Homo sapiens: one gene and its partner. The protein of the gene in region 1 interacts with the protein of each later gene in a biochemical or structural test. Each region holds a gene or a part of one and is shown in the gene's direction. Other genes may lie near its edges. The genes, in order: ASCL1 and MEF2A.

Region 1 (9,125 bases):
TCCATTGCTTCTGGAACTCAAGTCACCCCCAAATTGAGGATTACACTTAAAATCCTGTAACAAAATCCAGAATCCAAGACTTGTGTTCATCTTTGTATTCCCTTTGCCCCTGATTCAGAATCTAACTAAAGTTAAAAATATAACTTTATTAAATTATTTGTCCAATGAAAATCCTAGTTTCACTTTTAATATCAATCCCTCTCCCCAAAGAGAAAGCATAAATTGGTTTTCAAAGAGATGAGTCATATCTTCTTTTTACAGAGAGACAACACACAATCAAGAGAACATACATAGGTCTTGAGCTTCAGCAAAGGTGGTACTGGCCTGGCCTTCAGCTGTGAATGGAAATTAAGGTGGCAGGAGACTCAGGGCACAGGGTCTCTGATCTCAGGGCAGCAGACCCCTTTGGCCACTAGGAAAGCCATCTCCCCCTACAGATCCTGATGCTGAATGAAGATAAAGTCTAATCTGAAGTATGGTTCAGCTCCAGAGTGTTCTGATATAGGAAAGGGGTCTGAAGGTGCAGAAATTAAGTCCCTTATTGTATTGGAGGAGAAAGAGAAGCCTTCTTATCTTTCTGCAATGTCTGTACTCTGGGTGATACTCACCAAAGGGGATCAGTGCTTTGTCCTTCCCACTCCCCCACCCTCATGACAAGACAGAACACTGAATGCTGCTATTCGGAAAAAGTGAAAAGGCAATCTCTGATATGTGGAGAGACTTGCAAAGCAAATTACCCAACAACATCTGATTTAATTCTCATAACACCCTTGACATACAGGCAAAGGGAGTACTACCACCTCATTTATGAATGAAGGTATCAAACCTTCCTTTTGTGAGTTGTTTACTTCTCCCTTCATGTGAAGATAAATGGGACATTGTTCAAGTGTCTTAGCCAACTAAAGCCCTAAGGACTTGCTCAGAATCAGGCCCACTGTGTGGCAAGGGAGCCAAGAAAGCAGGGCCCAGTGGCTCTGCTGAAGCCCCTTGCATGTGGAGGCCACAGAACATCTCTATAGTCTATCTTACTTGCTACTTTTCATGTCTAAAAATCGGGTTACTATCTCCATCATCTTAATATGCCAGTATCACCACCATTTCTCAAAAATGACAGGAATGACTCACCCCTAGGTGCTGGGACAGTGAGACAGAGTGGCACTGGATCTCCATTGGCTGGAGTGATGATCACAGAGTGGTTCCAGGAAGCCAAGTGCTGAGGCTCCTCCTGCCACACACCCTTTCCTGGGTGGGTTGTGTGAGCATGACTTTCTTATTAATCCCTTTCTCTTTAGACCTGGGCTAGAGTGCTCTACATACATATCATTGAAGTCTCACAACTCTTGGAGGTAGATACTATAATTACTGGCATAGGTGAAATAGAGACCCCTAGAGTGTCTCAGGGTCACACAGCTCTCAGGTAAAGGGGCCTAGATACCAAGTCAAATCAGCCTGCTTTATCTGGAATTCCATGGGCCTAGGAGAGCAGAACATGTGGCCAGTTCTCTCAGGTCGGGAGGAGGGATTATAATCTAGGTCACACAGTCAGAGGCAGGATTCTAATTTTGGCTCCTGAGCCTCCCATCTTTTGCTTCACACTGGTGAAAACAACCAGAAAGCCAATATCAATGGAAAACTCTCTTGGTAGAATCCCCAAGGATAGAAATGCAAACCTCTAAAGAAAAATTATAGACTGTTCTACCCTAGGGTTGGAGGAGAAAGTGGAGATGACAGTGTTGAGGTGCAAACTCCAGGTTTACTTGAGTGGGGGGAGGAGAACGCCTCGGTTCTTGGAAGGCTTTGCAAAGCATGTAAGGAAGAAAACTTAGCATACTAGGGTGAGAAGAGTGAGGTCAGGCTCAGGGCTGGCATAGGGAGAATAGAGACAAATGTTCTGGCGGTTTTGGCCAGAAGGATCCCAGCAACGACTGTCCTTCCTCCTGGCCTGAGGCCAATGAGTAAGGCCACTACAAGACAAGGCTTCTTCACTACAATGCACTTCCACTCCATTTGGGCACCCATTTCATGGTGTGTGTAGGGGGGAGGAGGAGAGGAGGTTCTGTCCTCTACTTCCCTGGTATTGAGATCTCTGTGTATGCATCCTGGAAAAGGAAACACGTGCTGGCTACCAGCAAATTTTCTAAGCTGTTAGATACAAGTTTCAAAATTAGCTACTGTACATCCCTTGTGTGTAGATCAGAAAACTGAGGCCAGTAGAGGCAGAGGGACTTGTTCAAGGTTATAAGGCACCATTGTGGTAGAGCTCAGACTCGGGACCTTTGTGAAGTGAGTCCAAGTTAGTAGGGAGTTTGGGGCTCATGTTTCAGCTTAATGTAAAAGAAAACACATCTAGATGCTTCCACATTTGCGACACTCCCTCCCACCCCCAACACTCAACTATTTGGCTGAAATAGAGTGAATGGGGCATTAGGACACAGCTGGGTCATGTGGGAGGTGGGTAAGGAGTGCCTGAATAATTCCTATTTCTGCAAGTGGTCTGAGGCTTACTCTGGCTGGGAGGTGCAGGGTGCCCAGGCTGTGTTGTGACTCTGCTTTTGGGTGCTCACCTCCTATACTTCCAGAGACCTCTTAGGCCCTTTCCTTGGTCAGGGATGTGGAGAAAGGCCTGAGGTGTGAATCCCACGGGGTTCAGCCAGTCCTGTGAGGCCATCAAGCCACAGGTTACCATGGGGAGAAGGGGCTGTGTGGCTGGGAAAGGTTACAGAATTGACCTCTGTTGGCACGATTTGGTCCTATACCTCTGAAGCCTACCTATTCTGCAAAGATGAAACTGAGGTAGAGAAGAGAGGTGATTCACTTCGGGAGCCGCCCGTCATTACTGCCCACCATCATCACTATTGTTCCAGAAACACTCAGCCAGCCCACATACCAAGAGCAGCTCCCTGGGTCATCCCCTTGGCCCTTTAGAAAGATCCACCTCCACAAAGGGGAGTTCAATTAGAACCAATTATCCGGATAATTCACCACAATCATTCCTGCACCCAGATCTCGGATTATTTCTACTGGAAAATCAAATGGATGATTGCCCTCCACTTCGTTCTGCCTATGTAGACAAGACCTGAGACATGCCCCAGCCTCTCTCCGGACCAGATCCTTAAAGAGATGGGGCCTATTGCTTGGTCTGCTTTCTCCGCAGCGCCGCGTCCCCAGACGTCCTGAAGCTGGACGGGGTTCTGGCCAGAGAGCGCCAGGGCCGAAGGCCCAGGAAGGACGCCTGGGCAGGCGCTGTCCAAGCGGTCGAGCGACGGCTGCAAGCGCCTCCCCCTCCCTCTCGGCGCCAGCACGCGGCCCCGCCGGGCTCCGCTCCCAGTCGCCTGCCACCGGGCCGCCGGGCACACGCCTGGGGCGGGATGGTGGCTGCGCCAAGGCCGCCGAGGTGCCCGCGGCGGCGCCGAAGAACCAGGAATCCCCACCAGTGCCCTAAGCGCCATCACTCAACCCCCGCCCCGCATCTTTCTTCTCCGAGGGTCTGGGAGTATCCCAGAGCACTCCCTTCTTTATGATATCCGCTAAGCTGGTCCGGAAATAATCTTTATGGGGAGGGGGTGGCGGTAGGGGGCGATGGTACAGGGGGCCAGAGGTCATCCTAGGGGGACGTCCCTGCCATATACACCCACCTACAGGACGGCTCACAACCACTCCTCGGTGTCGCTTCCCCGCGGCCCCCCACACACTTGCTCAGTTATGGGGAGCACATCCTAGTTTTTAGAGCTGAATGGGACATTAGAGACCATATTCTGTGGCTGCAGACGAGGAAGCGAAGGCTCAGAGAGGATGCCACTTCGAGGAGCCACAGAGCATTGAGAGGACGCCTTGGGACTAGAACCCACGTTTTCACATAGTCCAGCACTTTTTTTCACTGTTCTGGACGGAGTCCCTCCCCCAACCATGTTTCTAAACTTCAATCGTAATTTGCTCCAATTTCTAGGGTCACCGAGGAACCCGAAGAGAATAACAGTGAGGAGAGAGAGAAAACAGGAAAAGTCGAGCCCCACTCCCTCCTCACCTCCACACCGTTCCTGTGCCATTTTTTCTGCCCAAACCCTTCCCTGCGCTTTGCTTCAAGTTCTTAGTAGAATCCAAGAGAGCTTCACCCCAAGTCTTTCCACCTATACACCTCAATTCCTAGAGCCATTTGTCCCTCCTGTGACGCCCCCCACCCCCTTCCTAAAGCCACCCCCGGCAGCAGCCCGCCCCGAGCGCGCCGCCTGTTTATTCAGCCGGGAGTCCGGCACGCGCCAGGCGCACGCACTGCAACAACAAACCCAGCTGAATGGAGAGTTTGCAAGGAGCGGGAGAAAGGAACGGGAGGGGGGGAGAGGAGAGGAGGAGGGGGAGTTTAGGGAGTGGGTGGGAGGAAGAGGTAAGAGGAGGGGGGGGAGTGGGGGCTGCAGCCGCTCGCTGCAGCAGCGGGGAGTGGGGGGCGAGGCGGGGCCAGGGCTGCGCGTGGGGCTGGGTGTCCCATTGAAAAGGCGGACGCACTCCGGCAGCCCAGCACTCTCTCACTTCTGGCCAGGGAACGTGGAAGGCGCACCGACAGGGATCCGGCCAGGGAGGGCGAGTGAAAGAAGGAAATCAGAAAGGAAGGGAGTTAACAAAATAATAAAAACAGCCTGAGCCACGGCTGGAGAGACCGAGACCCGGCGCAAGAGAGCGCAGCCTTAGTAGGAGAGGAACGCGAGACGCGGCAGAGCGCGTTCAGCACTGACTTTTGCTGCTGCTTCTGCTTTTTTTTTTCTTAGAAACAAGAAGGCGCCAGCGGCAGCCTCACACGCGAGCGCCACGCGAGGCTCCCGAAGCCAACCCGCGAAGGGAGGAGGGGAGGGAGGAGGAGGCGGCGTGCAGGGAGGAGAAAAAGCATTTTCACTTTTTTTGCTCCCACTCTAAGAAGTCTCCCGGGGATTTTGTATATATTTTTTAACTTCCGTCAGGGCTCCCGCTTCATATTTCCTTTTCTTTCCCTCTCTGTTCCTGCACCCAAGTTCTCTCTGTGTCCCCCTCGCGGGCCCCGCACCTCGCGTCCCGGATCGCTCTGATTCCGCGACTCCTTGGCCGCCGCTGCGCATGGAAAGCTCTGCCAAGATGGAGAGCGGCGGCGCCGGCCAGCAGCCCCAGCCGCAGCCCCAGCAGCCCTTCCTGCCGCCCGCAGCCTGTTTCTTTGCCACGGCCGCAGCCGCGGCGGCCGCAGCCGCCGCAGCGGCAGCGCAGAGCGCGCAGCAGCAGCAGCAGCAGCAGCAGCAGCAGCAGCAGGCGCCGCAGCTGAGACCGGCGGCCGACGGCCAGCCCTCAGGGGGCGGTCACAAGTCAGCGCCCAAGCAAGTCAAGCGACAGCGCTCGTCTTCGCCCGAACTGATGCGCTGCAAACGCCGGCTCAACTTCAGCGGCTTTGGCTACAGCCTGCCGCAGCAGCAGCCGGCCGCCGTGGCGCGCCGCAACGAGCGCGAGCGCAACCGCGTCAAGTTGGTCAACCTGGGCTTTGCCACCCTTCGGGAGCACGTCCCCAACGGCGCGGCCAACAAGAAGATGAGTAAGGTGGAGACACTGCGCTCGGCGGTCGAGTACATCCGCGCGCTGCAGCAGCTGCTGGACGAGCATGACGCGGTGAGCGCCGCCTTCCAGGCAGGCGTCCTGTCGCCCACCATCTCCCCCAACTACTCCAACGACTTGAACTCCATGGCCGGCTCGCCGGTCTCATCCTACTCGTCGGACGAGGGCTCTTACGACCCGCTCAGCCCCGAGGAGCAGGAGCTTCTCGACTTCACCAACTGGTTCTGAGGGGCTCGGCCTGGTCAGGCCCTGGTGCGAATGGACTTTGGAAGCAGGTAGGTTGCATTTTGGGGTGGGCAGGGGGGTATTCTTGCCTTCGTCCTCCCTCTGAGTGTCTGTGGAAGTGGGGATGTCTCCAAGGAGATAAGGGGATTTTTATTTAAAGAATTTGTGAAAGTTGGTCGATTTCAAGTCCTAGTTTGTTAGTTTCAGCACTGGCCTCTGAAAATGGCCTTGCCCAGGTCTCCAAGGAGTGAAGGGTAGTAGTGAGGTGCAGAGATACTGGTGAACCGAATACTGGGACATGTTAAAAGAGATGTCTACCTGACAGACTCTTTCCCCAGACCTCCATCTCCCTCTACCACTAGCCTACACGTTCAAATTAACCTCTCCTGTTCTTTTCCTTATGTTATAGGGTGATCGCACAACCTGCATCTTTAGTGCTTTCTTGTCAGTGGCGTTGGGAGGGGGAGAAAAGGAAAAGAAAAAAAAAAGAAGAAGAAGAAGAAAAGAGAAGAAGAAAAAAACGAAAACAGTCAACCAACCCCATCGCCAACTAAGCGAGGCATGCCTGAGAGACATGGCTTTCAGAAAACGGGAAGCGCTCAGAACAGTATCTTTGCACTCCAATCATTCACGGAGATATGAAGAGCAACTGGGACCTGAGTCAATGCGCAAAATGCAGCTTGTGTGCAAAAGCAGTGGGCTCCTGGCAGAAGGGAGCAGCACACGCGTTATAGTAACTCCCATCACCTCTAACACGCACAGCTGAAAGTTCTTGCTCGGGTCCCTTCACCTCCTCGCCCTTTCTTAAAGTGCAGTTCTTAGCCCTCTAGAAACGAGTTGGTGTCTTTCGTCTCAGTAGCCCCCACCCCAATAAGCTGTAGACATTGGTTTACAGTGAAACTATGCTATTCTCAGCCCTTTGAAACTCTGCTTCTCCTCCAGGGCCCGATTCCCAAACCCCATGGCTTCCCTCACACTGTCTTTTCTACCATTTTCATTATAGAATGCTTCCAATCTTTTGTGAATTTTTTATTATAAAAAATCTATTTGTATCTATCCTAACCAGTTCGGGGATATATTAAGATATTTTTGTACATAAGAGAGAAAGAGAGAGAAAAATTTATAGAAGTTTTGTACAAATGGTTTAAAATGTGTATATCTTGATACTTTAACATGTAATGCTATTACCTCTGCATATTTTAGATGTGTAGTTCACCTTACAACTGCAATTTTCCCTATGTGGTTTTGTAAAGAACTCTCCTCATAGGTGAGATCAAGAGGCCACCAGTTGTACTTCAGCACCAATGTGTCTTACTTTATAGAAATGTTGTTAATGTATTAATGATGTTATTAAATACTGTTCAAGAAGAACAAAGTTTATGCAGCTACTGTCCAAACTCAAAGTGGCAGCCAGTTGGTTTTGATAGGTTGCCTTTTGGAGATTTCTATTACTGCCTTTTTTTTTCTTACTGTTTTATTACAAACTTACAAAAATATGTATAACCCTGTTTTATACAAACTAGTTTCGTAATAAAACTTTTTCCTTTTTTTAAAATGAAAATAATCAGCTGACTCTAAGCTTTCTTTGACTCTGATGCCCCTGGTCCAGTTTTATGAAAATGTCAAAGGGAAGAGGTGGATGGAGAAGAAAATGTTGCAAAACATGCTAAGTGGCAGAAATGACAATGATAAGTGCTATGGCCAGTCCCATCCAAATGGTTTCTTTATGATGAATGAGTGTGTGTTTGTGTGTGTGTGTGTGTGTGTGTGTATGTACATGTATATATGTTTTCTTTCTATCCTATGCTGCAAATGTACATGCCCACCAAAAAGAATAGATGGCTGCATTATCCTTTGATCAAAATTTAAAATCCCCCAAAAAAGTGAACCAGAAAGAGAGGGTCCTCCACCATTTTCCAATTCTCAACTCCATTCTGAGTTTCTCCCTGTGAAACTATGGTGGGGCTGGATGAAATAATGGAGACTAGGTCTGGGTGGGGAGGATGGTGGTTCTGGGATGGGGGTTGGAGAGGCATCCCTCTCCACATACAAGCTCCTAGTGGTGAGTATGTTTCTCTTCCCTCACTTCCAGGCATACATTTTCTACTCATTTTCTCCAATACACCTACTTGCTATATTGATTTTAAGTAAGAGGCATATATGATATGAATTCATTCCAAACGGATTGAGATTTTAATTAAAAAAACGCATTAGAAATGTGTGGTCGCTTTGAGACACTGGTCTATCTAAGCTTGTGACTCTATCCGAATAGCGTGAGCTGCGTGTAAAAGTACCCAATTACCAAGATTCAAAAAGAAATTGGTGGGTTTTTGGCTGGCTTGCTTCTTGTCAGTTAGCAAGGACGTGATTAGAATCCTACTCGGCCTCTCGCCGGCTCCTCGCTCGCCGCCTGCATTACTTGCAGATTCAGTTTGCGTGTCTCCAGCCAAGCGGAAAGCCGAGCGCAAAATGCATCTTACAAAACCCAACAAAGAACGGGTAGCCAGCACGTCTTCCAGAGTTAAAAATCTAGTCTGTGTTGGTACATCTATACCATTTAGTGGCACAGAATAATCATTTTTTAAAGCCACGATGCGCGGAGCACGCCACAGCGTCTGATGTCATTTTGCTAAATGACCCTCTATAGAATGCACATTGAGGCTTCAGTCCCTTTCAAAGAGATGAGCGTAATTAAGGAAAAAAAATCAGTAAATTCCTCATCGCCATAAATAATCGGACTTTCTGCCAGCAGTGGGCCAATTTAGAGCTTACTTGAGAGAAGTAATGCTTTTGTGATGCCTGCTTTTATTTTTATCTTCTCATTTGGAGGACCAGAGATGGGCTCCACCCCCACTCTCCATTTCTCTTTCCTTTAATTTAGCTCCTTTGCAAGATTCCAGATAAGGTATGCAAAGAAAGTGTAGCAAGTCATTTATGGCTATGAATATAACATTAGGATAATGTTTCAGCCCCCACAAAGGGGGATTTTTTTTTCCTTCTCCTGTGAGGACAGGTGTTCTTTACTCACTTCTGAATGGGAAATATCCAGTCTCGTTAAACTCGAGGCAAAGTTAGTCGTTGTTTGCCACAATGCGAAGGCAAACTCGAAAAATTCACAAAAACACACACAATTTTGCCTAAGCTAGGAAAGGGCAAAGCGAGGATTGGGCAAAATCTCATTACATCTGCTCTAATCGCTTAGCAACACAAAGCCGGGGCTTGTGCGGCGAAGGGAAGCCATTCACAGAGCTCTGACAGGCCGCATTCAGCGCGCGTTAGTCAGCTCCATAAATCACCGCTGCCCATTGGCTGCGCGGCGGGCTTTGGAGCGGCCC
Region 2 (12,670 bases), on another chromosome or scaffold:
TTTATTGGCCATTTAGATATATATCTTCTGTGACTAGTCTGTTCACTTCATTTTGTTTTCTTCTAATGGGCTGCCTGCTTTTTTCTTATTAATATGCATTCTATATAATCAGGTGAGTGTTTTGTCCATGATATGCATTATAAATATTAGCTCTAAAACTATGGCTTGCCTTTTCACTTTCTTTTTTAAAAATTTTATTTTAGAGACAGGGTCTTGCTGTGATGCCCAGGCTGGAGTGCAGTGGTGCGATCATAGGTCACTGTAACTCAAACTTTTGGGCTCAAGTGATCCTCTCATCTTCACCTCTTGAGTAGGTTGGACTACGGGCATGTACCACTAGGGCCGACCCATTCTTTTATTTTTTTGTAGAGATGGTGTCTCGCCTAGACTGGTCAGGAACTCCTGGCCTTAAGTGATCCTCCTGCCTTGGCTTCCCAAAGCACTAGGATTACAGGCATGAGCCACCACACCAGGCCTACACTTTCTTAATGTTTTAAAAAATCAATAATATTTTAATGGTTTCCCATTTACCTTTTTTTCCCTTTCCTTTATGAGTAGTGCCTTTTGTGTCACGTTTAAGAAATCTTTACTTACCATAAGGCCATAAAGATATTCTTCTATGCTTTCTTCTGTAAGGACTCTTTTTTTTTAACCTTTCATGTTTTAGACCTGTTATCCATTTGGTGTTTATTTTTGTGTTTGGTTTGAGGTGTAGGGGTCAGGATTTGTTATTTTCCAGATGGATATTTAGTTGTCCCAGTACAATTTATTGCATAAAACCATCCTTTCCTCACTATATGACAGGGTTGCCTTTATCATGAGTCGAGTAACCATATGTGTGTGAAACTGTTTCTAAATTCTCTGTTTTGTTCCATTTGATTATTTGTATATCCTTGCTTAATTCTGCACTGTTTTAATTACTATAATTTGATATCTGGTGGTGTAGTTCTGCACCTTTTTTTTTTTTTTCTCAGAACCAGCTGACTATTCTTGCCCTTTTTCAGAATATCCAAATGAAACCAAGTGTCATTGTTCACTTAAGAAAACAAAAAACCTACTGGAATTTAGATATTTTTTTTCCACTGGATGTAGGGATCTATTTAGGGAGAATTGAAATCTTTACAGTGTCAAGTCTTGTAATCTATGAACATGTTTGTATTTCATTTGGTTTTCATTAATTCTCTCCATAATGGCTGATAGTTTTCAAAATAAGTCTTCTACATTTTTGTTATATTTATTAGTAGATATTTGATTTTCTAAAGCATTATTAACATTTCTTCTCAAATTTTATTTTCTGCATATTTGCTGCTAAGTATATAAAAGTATACTTAAGAATTGCTAGATGACATGGTAACTCTTAAGTTTAACATTTTGGGAAATGCCAGACTGCCAAAGTGGCTGCACCATTTTGCTTTCTGCCTGCCATGTGTCAGCATTCTAAGTTTTCCACATCCCAGCCAACACTTGTTATTGTCTGTCTTTTTTTTTTTTTCTGTGTAAGACGGAGTCTCGCTCTGTCGCCCAGGATGGAGTGCAGTGGCACGCTGTCGGCTCACTGCAAGCTCCGCCTCCCGGGTTCGTGCCATTCTTCTGCCTCAGCCTCCTGAGTAGCTGGGATTACAGGCGCCTGCCACCACGCCCGGCTAATTTTTTTGTATTTTTAGTAGAGACGGGGTTTCATGGTGTCAGCCAGGATGGTCTTGATCTCCTGACCTCGTGATCTGCCCGCCTCGGCCTCCCAAAGTGTTGGAATCACAGGCGTGAGCCACCGCCCCCAGCCCTGTCTTTTTTATTGTAGCCATCCTGATGGGTATAAACTGGTATCTTGTGGTTTTAGTTTGCATTTCTCTGATGGCTAATGATGTTGAACATCTTTTCATGTGCTTATTGGACATTTGTATATCTTCCTTGGAAAAATGTCTATTCAAATCCTTTGCATAATTTTTAATTGTTTTTTAGTTGTATGATCATTTTGAAAGCTGTTTTTATTGGTTGTAGAATTCTAGATTGGCAGTTTTATTCTCTTAGTACTTTGAAGCAGTTGTCTTCCAACTTCCATTCATTTCTGTTAAGAGGCCAGCTTTTGATCTTAAAAAAAATTTTTTTTTTAAAGATAATGTGTCTTTCTTTTCTTTTGTTGCTTTAAAGCCTTTTGCTTTTCCTTTGTTAATATACATTTTTACTGTGATGGACCCACAAGGGGCATGTGTCTTCAGATATTGCTTGTGTCCCATTTTTTTCCTTCTCTGGGATTCTAGTTACATATAACGGTTTTGTATCCCATACATTTCTTATGTATTTTGTCCTCCTGTATTTTTTACTCTTTTTTTCTCTGTACTTCAGTTTGAATGTTTTCTAGTTATTTTCTAGCAATCTATTTTCTAGTAAGCCTTTCTCCTGCTTTTTAAAATTAACTGATAAAACAGCCTAGTACGTTCTTAATTTCTGATAATATAGTTTCAATTCTAGAATTTTTTGATTTTTCATTTTTATGGAAATGGCCCATCTTGTCATCCATTTTCTCCATTTTTAAGCTTTTTTTTAAATATTAGCCATAGTTATCTTTAAGTTCATGTCTGTGAATAGCTATATCTGGATTACCTGTAAGTCCATATCTGATCCCTTTTTCTCTTTGTTCTCAATTATACGATGCAGTCTTTTGACATGTCTAGTGGTTTTTAATGAGCCTTCAGACCTTGTATGTGAAAGAGATTATAGAATCTTAGCATCTCCAGTCTTCCTGCTTTAGCAGCTTTCTGATGTCTTTAAAGAGGTATTTGTTGTATTTCATCCTGTTTTACTAGTTGATTTCAGTGGGTTCTTTGGTCTTCCAACAACTACTCCCTCTAACCTAAAAGCAGACATCCTCATATACTTAAAAAAAAGAAAGAAAGCAGTTTAAAAATAAAAGTTTTTTCCAAAGGTTCCAAAGGTAGAGTACAGAGAACGATACTTCAAGGTTTGCTATATTCATTATCCAGAAGTAACATATGTCAGTGCTGACACATTTGTTATATGTATTTTTATTTTTATTCATAAAGTGAAAAAAATTAGAGATTTACTGTCCTCTTTATAATTTTTCCTGGTCTCTTCCTACTTTCCTTCTCATAACCACTATCATGAATTTACATTGTGTTTTCTTTATATTTTTTAACAGGTATTATTTAATATTGTTTCAACATGGGTTTAAAGTTTTACATAGTGACGTTTTCATTTGCACTTGCTTTTTCACTCAGTGTAGTGTTTTGAGATCCATCTGCTCTCATTCAATACAGCTAGTTTTAGGAATAAATATTCTTAATTCATCAATACTTCTATCAAAGAACAACTATGTTGTTTCTAATTTTTTACTGTTATAAATGGTGTTGCAGTATACATCTGTTGACCTGTCTCATTATACATGGGTAAAAGTTGCTCTGTGATAGTTTCAGAAGGAATTGCTAGGCTGAGTATGTCCATCATCAGCTTTACCATGTTTTCAAGTTGCTTTCCAAAGTGATTGTACTAGCTACACTGCAGTAAGTTTGTATGATAATTCCTATTTGCCCATATACTTTGCCTTTCCTTCTTTCTGTCTTGTCTGCCTTTCTTTTCTATTTTTTCTGTCTTTGTCCCTTTTTAAATTTTATTTTATTCTTTTTTCTGGTCTTAGGAAAGTGAAATGCAACCTGTTTTTGTGGTTTGCTTATTTTGTGCTGGGTTGTTGGTTTTGGTTTTTTTCTCTTAGAAGTTCTTTACATATTCTGGATATTAATTCTGTATGTATTGTCTCTGTTTCAGATAGTATCTTTCAGTCTTTACCAAAACACTTTGTAAACACTTTTATGACGGGACTTACCATAGTGTTGTATATTGCCCTTATTTCAGTAGATTGTGAGCCTTTTTAAGTGTGTTAAGACTTGCTTTATTTCCTAAATCAAGATTGGTTTTTTTAAATGTTCCGAATGGAGTTGGGTAAATATGTATTCTTTGATTGTTGGATGCATGCATCTCCATATATCTTTCAGATAACTCTCATTGTTGTGTTCTAACCTTCCGTATTCTTTGTGACTTTTTGTTTTTTGTTCATTGAGACTTATCAATAATTGTATGTACCACAATGGTGGATTTGTCAATTTCTCTGTATATTTTATTGATTTAATAATACTGTTTTATACATTTTGGGACTATTTCGTTAGGCTTGCACATATTTAGAGGTGATGTACCTTCTTGGCAAATTTTGCAATACATATTGACCATCTTTATCCTCAGTAAGGCATGTTTGTCTTAAATCTACCTTACCTCACCTTGATATAGCTACATATTTCTTCCTTTCCTTTTCTTTTTTTCTTTTCCTTCCTTCCTCCCTCTCTCCCTCCTTCACTCCCTTTCTCCCCTCCCCTCTTTTCTTTCTTTTCTTTTTTTTTTTTTTTGAGACAGGGTCTTGCTCTGTCACCCAGGCCAGAGTGCATTGGCATGATCATGGCTCACTGCAGCCTTGACCTCCTGTGCTCAAGCAATCCTCCTGCTTCAGCCTCCAGAGTAACATGGGTATGCGCACCATGCCTGGCTAATTTTTGTACTTTTTGCAGAGGTGAGGTCTCACCATGTTGCCCAGACTGGTCTTGAACTCCTGAGCTCAAGTGATCCTCCCACCTGGCCCTCCCAAAGTGCTGGGATTATAGTGTGAGCCACGGCGCCCAGCCAGTGTTTTCTTGGAGGTCTGAAACTCTGTGTTATCTTTCAACCTTACTGTTTCCTTATGTTTTAGGTATGTCTTTTATAGATAGTATGAGAGGCTGCATATTGGTTTTTTATCTAGTTTGATCCATCTCTTAACCCACCAGTCTAGTTGATGTTTATTCCCTGTGATCTCGCACGTATTTGCACTAGTTTGCGTGATCCCAGTCGATCATATAAATGGGTTAGCGGGTCCCAGCCGTCGAAAAAGCCATAGTGTCCGCAAAGAACTCTGATTGCAGCTCCACACAGAGCCCCCCAGGGAAGAGGACATCGGAAGAAGATATTTCATCTACCTGGCAATCCACCAAACGTGGAGGTTCTGAGTAAGAATGGTTGAGAAGTCACCCTGCCAGAGGTTAGTCAGTTTCTACCTGATGTCTTCAACTCCTATCTCCAGCAGAGCTTTTGTACTGCCCAGGTTTCATTCTGGAGGGCGTCTGTCTGCATCAGCATGGCTGCCAGTTCTCTTGTGATGTAGCAGGCATTGAGTGTTCCAGGCAGCGGAGGTGAGAAGCACAAGCTGAACCCAAACTGCTGTTTTAAAAATTTGTCTTCTCGGCCGGGCGCGTTGGCTCACACCTGTAATCCCAGCACTTTGGGAGGCCGAGGCGGGCGGATCACGAGGTCAGGAGATCGAGACCATCCTGGCTAACACGGTGAAACCTGTCTCTACTAAAAAATACAAAAAATTAGCCAGGCGTGGTGGCAGGTGCCTGTAGTCCCAGCTACTCGGGAGGCTGAGGCAGGAGAACGGCATGAACTCGGGAGGCGGAGCTTGCAGTGAGTCGAGATCGTGCCACTTGCACTCCAGCCTGGGCGACAGAGTGAGACTCTGTCTTAAAAAATTTGTCTTCTCATAATCCCACTGGCCGATTTCTTCTCCAGGCTACAAGCCTCCACATCCCTGACCCCGTACATTTTCCAGCATACCCTCTGGGGTTTCTCACTTTTTCTTCATTATTCCTTTACAGATTTATTCAACAAATTTGTTTAGCACCGCCTCACTGCCACACAGTAGCTTTGTTTTAGAAGCTGAGCGTGCAGCATTGAACTTTTTTCAACTTATGTTCTACTCAGATGACTGGTTTTTTTTGTTTGTTTGTTTTTGTTTTTTCAGCAAGTAATGCTTGTTGGTTTTTTTGCCCCTAACAAGGGCTTGTAGGTGTTATACTTCCTGAGTTTTTTTATGTTTGAAAATGTTTATTGTCTTTATACTTGAAGTCTGACTTGGCTAGGTCTAACGTTCTAGGTATAGGCCCTATTTCTTTTCCCCAGAACATCGTAGAGATTTGGTCTTCTGACTTTGAATGTTGCCAGAATTCTAACACCAGACTGAGTTTTTTCCCTTCTTAAAAGTCACTCACTTCCTTCCTTGGTGTACATGGTATTCTTTCTTTGACCTTGACATTCAGTAACTTAATCTGAATATGCCATGAATTTGATTATTCCTTATCACTTTTTTGAGAGATTGTATGCCTTTCTGTATTTTATTTTTTAATAAATATTTTTCCTTTGCTAAATGCTCTGGGCTTTTTTGGTATCTTCATTATCTGTCAACAATACAAACAACTTTTTTCTATTCATTTTAGTTTTCTGTTTTGATTCTTTGATTTTCATTATTGTGCTAAAAATCTCTGTTATGATTTGATTTTTTTTCTCTTCTCATTCATTTCCGAGCCATACCAGCTCACATTTTAGATCTGTTATCTCTGACAGTTTTTGGCAATTATATTAAGTATGAGTTAACAGAAATAGCTTTCCTATAAAATTATTTTCTTTATTTATTTTGGTTTCACCTTCCCTGGCATTCTACATTTAGAACAAGATTCTTCACTTATTTCATGGGCTTCTGATACTTGTGAATCTTGTAGCACTAATCAGAGGATCCTCTCAGAGGACACTGCCACTTTTGTGAAGAACTCAGTGTGAATTCTCTGAATCCACTTTCATTTTCTTCTAAATTTCACCAAATCTGGCAGATGAAAATTTGTAGTTAGGGATTCTTACTTTCCTTGAAGAAAACCCAGTCTCTTTTTTAGTATTATGTATGTGTATGTATGTATGTGTCCATGTTTTTAGAGGAGTAGAGAGGAGTAAACATGACTTTATTCCATTTTGAATTTAAAACTAACTTTTGTGATTTCTTTTGAAGTTAATATAAAGAATTTACATCATTTTAATGTAATTGAAATCAGTTTAAAAATATTGTCTTAGAATAATAAAGTTGAGTCTTGAGTTTTAATTATGTAGTTAGTATTCTGTAGCCTAATTTTAGATTACGTTACCTCTTTCATGTCAAATTTATGAACTGAAACGTGGCTGTATTGTAAAATACTAATTAACACTCTACTAATTAGTTGGCTTTTACTGATTTTTCACTTTTAGATGTCTTAGAAAGCTAGTATGTAGAAGGAAAATCTCTGTATGACAACCAAAAACTTACTTTGAACTGAAAACACTAAAATCAAGGGAAAATGTACTCTTAACAGCTTGTTTTCTTGCTTTGTGACTTGTTATATTTTGTTATAATCTAATCTTCTAGGCATATACTCATGTCATAAGTGATAGTATTTTTCATTCCTTTCCTTATTGCTTTCCTCCATTGTATTCTATTTTGTTTTTGTTTGTTCCCAAATGTATTTGTAAAAACAAGTACATCAACAGATGCGGAGGTTTTTCTACTTGTAATTTCTGTTTTATATTGAGAATTTTTTTTTTTTTTTTTGAGATGGAGTCTCGCTCTGTCGCCCAGGCTGGAGTGCAGTGGTGCGATCTCGGCTCACTGCAAGCTCTGCCTCCAGTGTTCATGCCATTCTCCTGCCTCAGCCTGCCGAGTAGGTGGGACTACAGGCGCCCACCACCACGCCCGGCTAATTTTTTGTGTTTTTAGTAGAGACGGGGTTTCGTAGTGTTAGCCAAGATGGTCTCCATCTCCTGAGCTCGTGATTCGCCTGCCTCAGCCTCCCAAAGTGCTGGGATTACGGGCGTGAGCCACCGTGCCCTGCTGAGAATTTTAAAGTATCAAATATAGACCAGTATTCAAAGATGATTCATAAAAGGTGATTTGGGTATATGACACAATTTACATGTAAATATGTATCATGAACAGACTAGATGGTATTGGCTAGTTAAATTTTCTTGTTAAATGAATATTTAAAGAACCTTCTCAACTCTATTTTCATTCAGTTTACTAGCTAACAGAATATTTGAGCGGTCATATAATACGTGGAGTATTGTGCTTTGTGCACTTGACAAATACAGAGAAAACATAAGGTTTTGAGACTGTTAAAGAGATTAGATCTACATAAAATTAAGAGGGATTAAGGTGATTAAATGCTAAGATGAGTAGATGTTAAATGCATTTGGTGTTACTATAGGGAGAAAACAGATACTCTGCTTAAATTTAGTGAAAACCATTGAACTACTATACCACTGTTTAATTTTATCATGCTACATAGGAAATAGACTGAAAAAATACAGAAACATCATTGAATTGTACATGTGAAATGAATTTTGTTGTTGTTTTGCTTTTACATGTACGTATTGTATCTGTAATGAAAGAGGATATTAAAGTCATGCCCGTGAAAAAAATTTCTAGTGGTAGTAATTGCTTTTCATGATACTGGAGATCCTCTACTTCTTTAATAGCTACTGCAATAACTGATTTTAAGTCTAGGCCAGTAGTTAAAGTTTATAGGAAGAAAATCGTATGATAGGTATCCATGGGGAAAATTGCTGAACTTTATGTTGTTGCACAATTCCAAAGATTATTCAAAAGTATATTCTTACTGACCTTTCAAAAACTGTTTTTTAAACAGACTTTATGTTTTAGAGAAGTTTTAGGTTCACAACAGCATTGAGCAGAAAGTAAAGAGAGTTCCCTTGCATTCCTTTCCCATCCCGTATTAGAAGAAGAGGGATCAAGGGTAACTCTTGCTCACCCCAAGGAGGGTTGTTGGGTGGTATAATTTTTGTATGGCATGAGCTTCAGAGTATTTGAAGTTTTTGAAGGGGAGGGAAAGAAAAGTAGTGTCGAAGAGAGAATACAGAGCATAAAAAGACATCTCTTTTAGGGCCTTCAGTCAATATAAAGGGTGTAAATAAAAAAATTTTTTGGGGGGGTCTCTGTTAGAGAGGATTTCAGGTAACAGGTTTCAGTTAAAGAAAGAAACAGTTAAAGAAGAATTTGAGGACTTTGGGGAATTTGCTGATCCCAGACTGTGAATTTCAGTGGGTACAATAGAGAAGGGCTTGAGAGGGAGGAGAAATACTTCAGATTAGTGGATGTATTTAGTTGTTTAGGGATCAAAGTCTGGCTGATGCTACATTACCTGGCTGGGATTTGGGGTTTCTGATGGTAACAATTTTAACTGAATGATAAGGGAACACTGATCAACTGTTCCTTCTGTGGTGCTTCACCCTCTGTAGTGGAGTGGCAGCCAAGGATAAGGAAATACTTCCCCAGGAGACAGCTCTGTCGGAGAACTTGGCATATACAAAACAAATGTAGGACTGTAGCACAACAGGAGAGGGAAGGCTCATATGGAGGACAAAGCTGGGAACCTTTTCCATCTTTGAAATCTGGCTCAGTATTAAGAAGAAGATTCATCTTCAGATAGCCCATATTCAAGTACTACTAATGCTTTTAATAAAAATATACCTTTTTTATTGTTTAGGTCACTTTTACAAAGAGAAAGTTTGGATTAATGAAGAAAGCCTATGAACTTAGTGTGCTCTGTGACTGTGAAATAGCACTCATCATTTTCAACAGCTCTAACAAACTGTTTCAATATGCTAGCACTGATATGGACAAAGTTCTTCTCAAGTATACAGAATATAATGAACCTCATGAAAGCAGAACCAACTCGGATATTGTTGAGGTAACACATATCTAGTAATACGTGAATTGCAAGTAATACTGAAATATTTTGTTTAATAGCATTAACTGTCAGAATGACTTGTACATCTAAAACATAAATTAGGTGTATATGTATCTTTTCTCTAAATCATTTCTTAGAAGAGTGATTGCTGTATGGCGACTCACTTGTGTTATAAACATACTCTATTCATTCAGACAAAGTAAACTATGTTGTTTTACCATGTATACCAGCATAATCTTAACATTTCATCTATGATTACTTATTTTGTATGAGTTTTAAAATTAATATTGTAAGAGACTATCATTTTTGGACAGTATGAAGTTACAGTTTTGGTATGTCTTAATCATTTCATTATGTCATTGACAGCTCACAACTTTAAACACTTAAGAAAACAATGACAATTATGTAAATAATATTTGCTTTGTTAATAGTGTTTTAGTTGGGCAACAGGAGAAAGTCCTCATTTTCTTTGTTTATCTGCTGCCTATTTGATAGCTCTCATAGTTCTCCCAACCTAATTAAGTGAAAAAGAAAAGGATTTATTATTAGAATGATCTTCTCAGAAATAGTGTTTTACAATAAAACCTTCAAAATGGAAACCAGTATGCTTCCCCCTTTTTATCTTCTCTCTTTCAAGATCTTCCATAAGATAACTTTTCCATGTGTATTTCTAATCACATTTTAAATTAGCTTCATAGTTACTTTTGTCTCTTTTGTTTATATTTGGAGGTTTTATATTTATTCAGTGGAGGAATTTTTTATTACTTGAAAGATGCATATTTTGGCTTAGTTTGTAATAGAAAAGTATTAGGCATTTCTTTGGTGAAAGTACTGAAACCATGTGAGGATTATGTAGAACAATTGAAAAAGAACAAATGGAGTCCTAATCTAGATGGTATTTCTAATATTTAAAATTAAAGATAATTTAGCTGTTTTGTTGTATAGGAATCTAATTTATTTGCCTCCTCAAGTTGTTATTGTTCCGAAAATGCATTTTAAATTTCCCCTATACTTCTTTGCCTTAACTGTCCCTCTTCAGGCAGTGATTGATACCATTACTACACACATAAAAACTATTACTTGTATTTTAAAAACAGCTTTTGTTACTTTTTAGTCATTTTTTCAAATGAGAAGTAAAGGTATAGCATAATTACAGCTAGGACTCATCTCTGTTGCTTGACTTATCCATAGTTTTATTTATGGGGCTCACTGCTGTTAACCTCCCCTGAATTGTATATGAAATTTTTTATTTTGCTTTTGTTGATAACTTTGATTAAACTACATGGTTATATCTTTAGCTAAACCCCTTAATGCAGTTATATTTATGTCATTTATAAATTATATTATTTAGCAGTTATGTTATATGTTATCATTTATTTATAATACTGTATAGTAGACCTTTCCCCTATTACATGTCATGAATACATTTTGTATTGTAATATTGTAAATTAGGGTATCATTCAGGTAAGCTTTGTTAAGAGACTTCATAACTGGATTTCCTTGAAATGGAGAGTAACCCTGTTGTGTTTAAAATAGCTTCTTATCTTATAAATCTATATGTCTCATCAAAAGTTACACTGCCTCAACTCAAACCAATGGAGCTGACTTTGATAATGTCAGCAAATAAGTATTCTAGCTAATTTCATTATAGAGGCAACCACCTCCTTAACCCTAACTACACTGCTCTTTCATTGCAGCAGTTGTTATTCTTGGTCCGTGGAGGTTGAGGGTACTTCACACTGCCTAAAGCTTACTTCCCTAGAGAATACGGAGAATGTAGTCTGATTTAATCCTCATAGAATTTTCAGACTACCTCAATCTTCATCTCTGTTGTGGACAGCAAAGTGTAAGAGAGCAGATCCCAAACATTTTTTTAAGCAGTCTCCTATATTACAGTCTGTTTCAATATGAAGGAAAACTTTTGCGGCTCAATTACATATTGGGATTTTGATGTTTTCTTTTTAATTGCATTTCCTCAAAATAAGTTAAAATGAATCGTGTTAATAGTTCCTTGTGAAGTTCTAAATTATATAAATACAGTAGATAGAAGACACATTAGATTATTAGGGATTAATTTATTGTGGTAGGATAAATTACAAGGCTTAATTCACACTTCTTGTATATTAATGTCTTACTGAGTCAACTTTTATTAAGAGAGTGGTTGTTAAGCTTGTGAGATAGGCCTTTTTTCACATATGAAGATGATGCAGCCTACATCTTCACTAGTAGTGCAATTCACATACGAGTTCTTTTTGCCAGTAGTGTAATGGCTTACGCTAATGCATCTATACAGTTTGCTATGGTTCAAATTAAATTTACAGGATAACAGTAATGAAGTTACTTACATAGAGCTTCCTATGGGTCTTAGTTTTTACAAAGTACTTTACAGTTGCCTCATTGAAGGATATTTTTGGAATACCATTTTTTCCTTTTCACAGTTTCCTTTCAGGCAGTTGTATTGATGGGAAGCAGGCTTTTTGATGCCCATTTACTCATTTGACAAAGATTTGAGGGGGTTCTATGTGCTTTGCAAGTTGATCTTATTTAGAGATTCCTAATTCAGGCCAGAAGAATATTCTTCCTACCCATATTTTTATAAACCATTGAGGTATACTTTTACCAACTGAAGATTTTATGTATATTTATAAGAACTTTGAACAAGTTGGTGATAAGCTTCTGGACTCCTTAGCCATCTCATGTGGTTGAAAACATCAGGATAAAATAGAGGCATGAACAGTTATAAGTGATCTACTTTAGAGTGATTTCTAAAGTATATGACCAATATACTTAAGAGTTTGTGTCATTATGTAAGCAATAATGACACAAACTCTGAAAACAACAACTTCCATAAGGCCTATAACCTGACTCCACATATTTCCGTTTGCATATATGTTAGTCTTTAAAAAATCAGCAGGATTTTACTTTCCCTATATTACTGAAATATGCTTTGACAGAGTCTTGAGTATATTAACATGGCGTCTTCATTAGATGTGTTCCTCTTCTGTTGCATCCAATACACAAGCCCTTTGAGGATGTGCTGTGAGGATGTGCTGTCAGCCTCACCTGTG

Evidence for each region.
Region 2: the proteins of ASCL1 (region 1) and MEF2A form a complex in vitro, tested with the Homo sapiens proteins (one study listed by BioGRID).

Annotation. Positions count from the first base shown.
Region 1 is NC_000012.12:102,953,163-102,962,287, forward strand, and holds ASCL1 (achaete-scute homolog 1), read left to right. Parts: upstream 1-4,511; 5' UTR 4,512-5,082; coding exon 5,083-5,793; 3' UTR 5,794-5,840; intron 5,841-6,199; 3' UTR 6,200-7,351; downstream 7,352-9,125.
Region 2 is NC_000015.10:99,636,163-99,648,832, forward strand, and holds part of MEF2A (myocyte-specific enhancer factor 2A), read left to right. Parts: intron 1-9,398; coding exon 9,399-9,602; intron 9,603-12,670. UniProt on the Homo sapiens protein: Transcriptional activator which binds specifically to the MEF2 element, 5'-YTA[AT](4)TAR-3', found in numerous muscle-specific genes. Also involved in the activation of numerous growth factor- and stress-induced genes.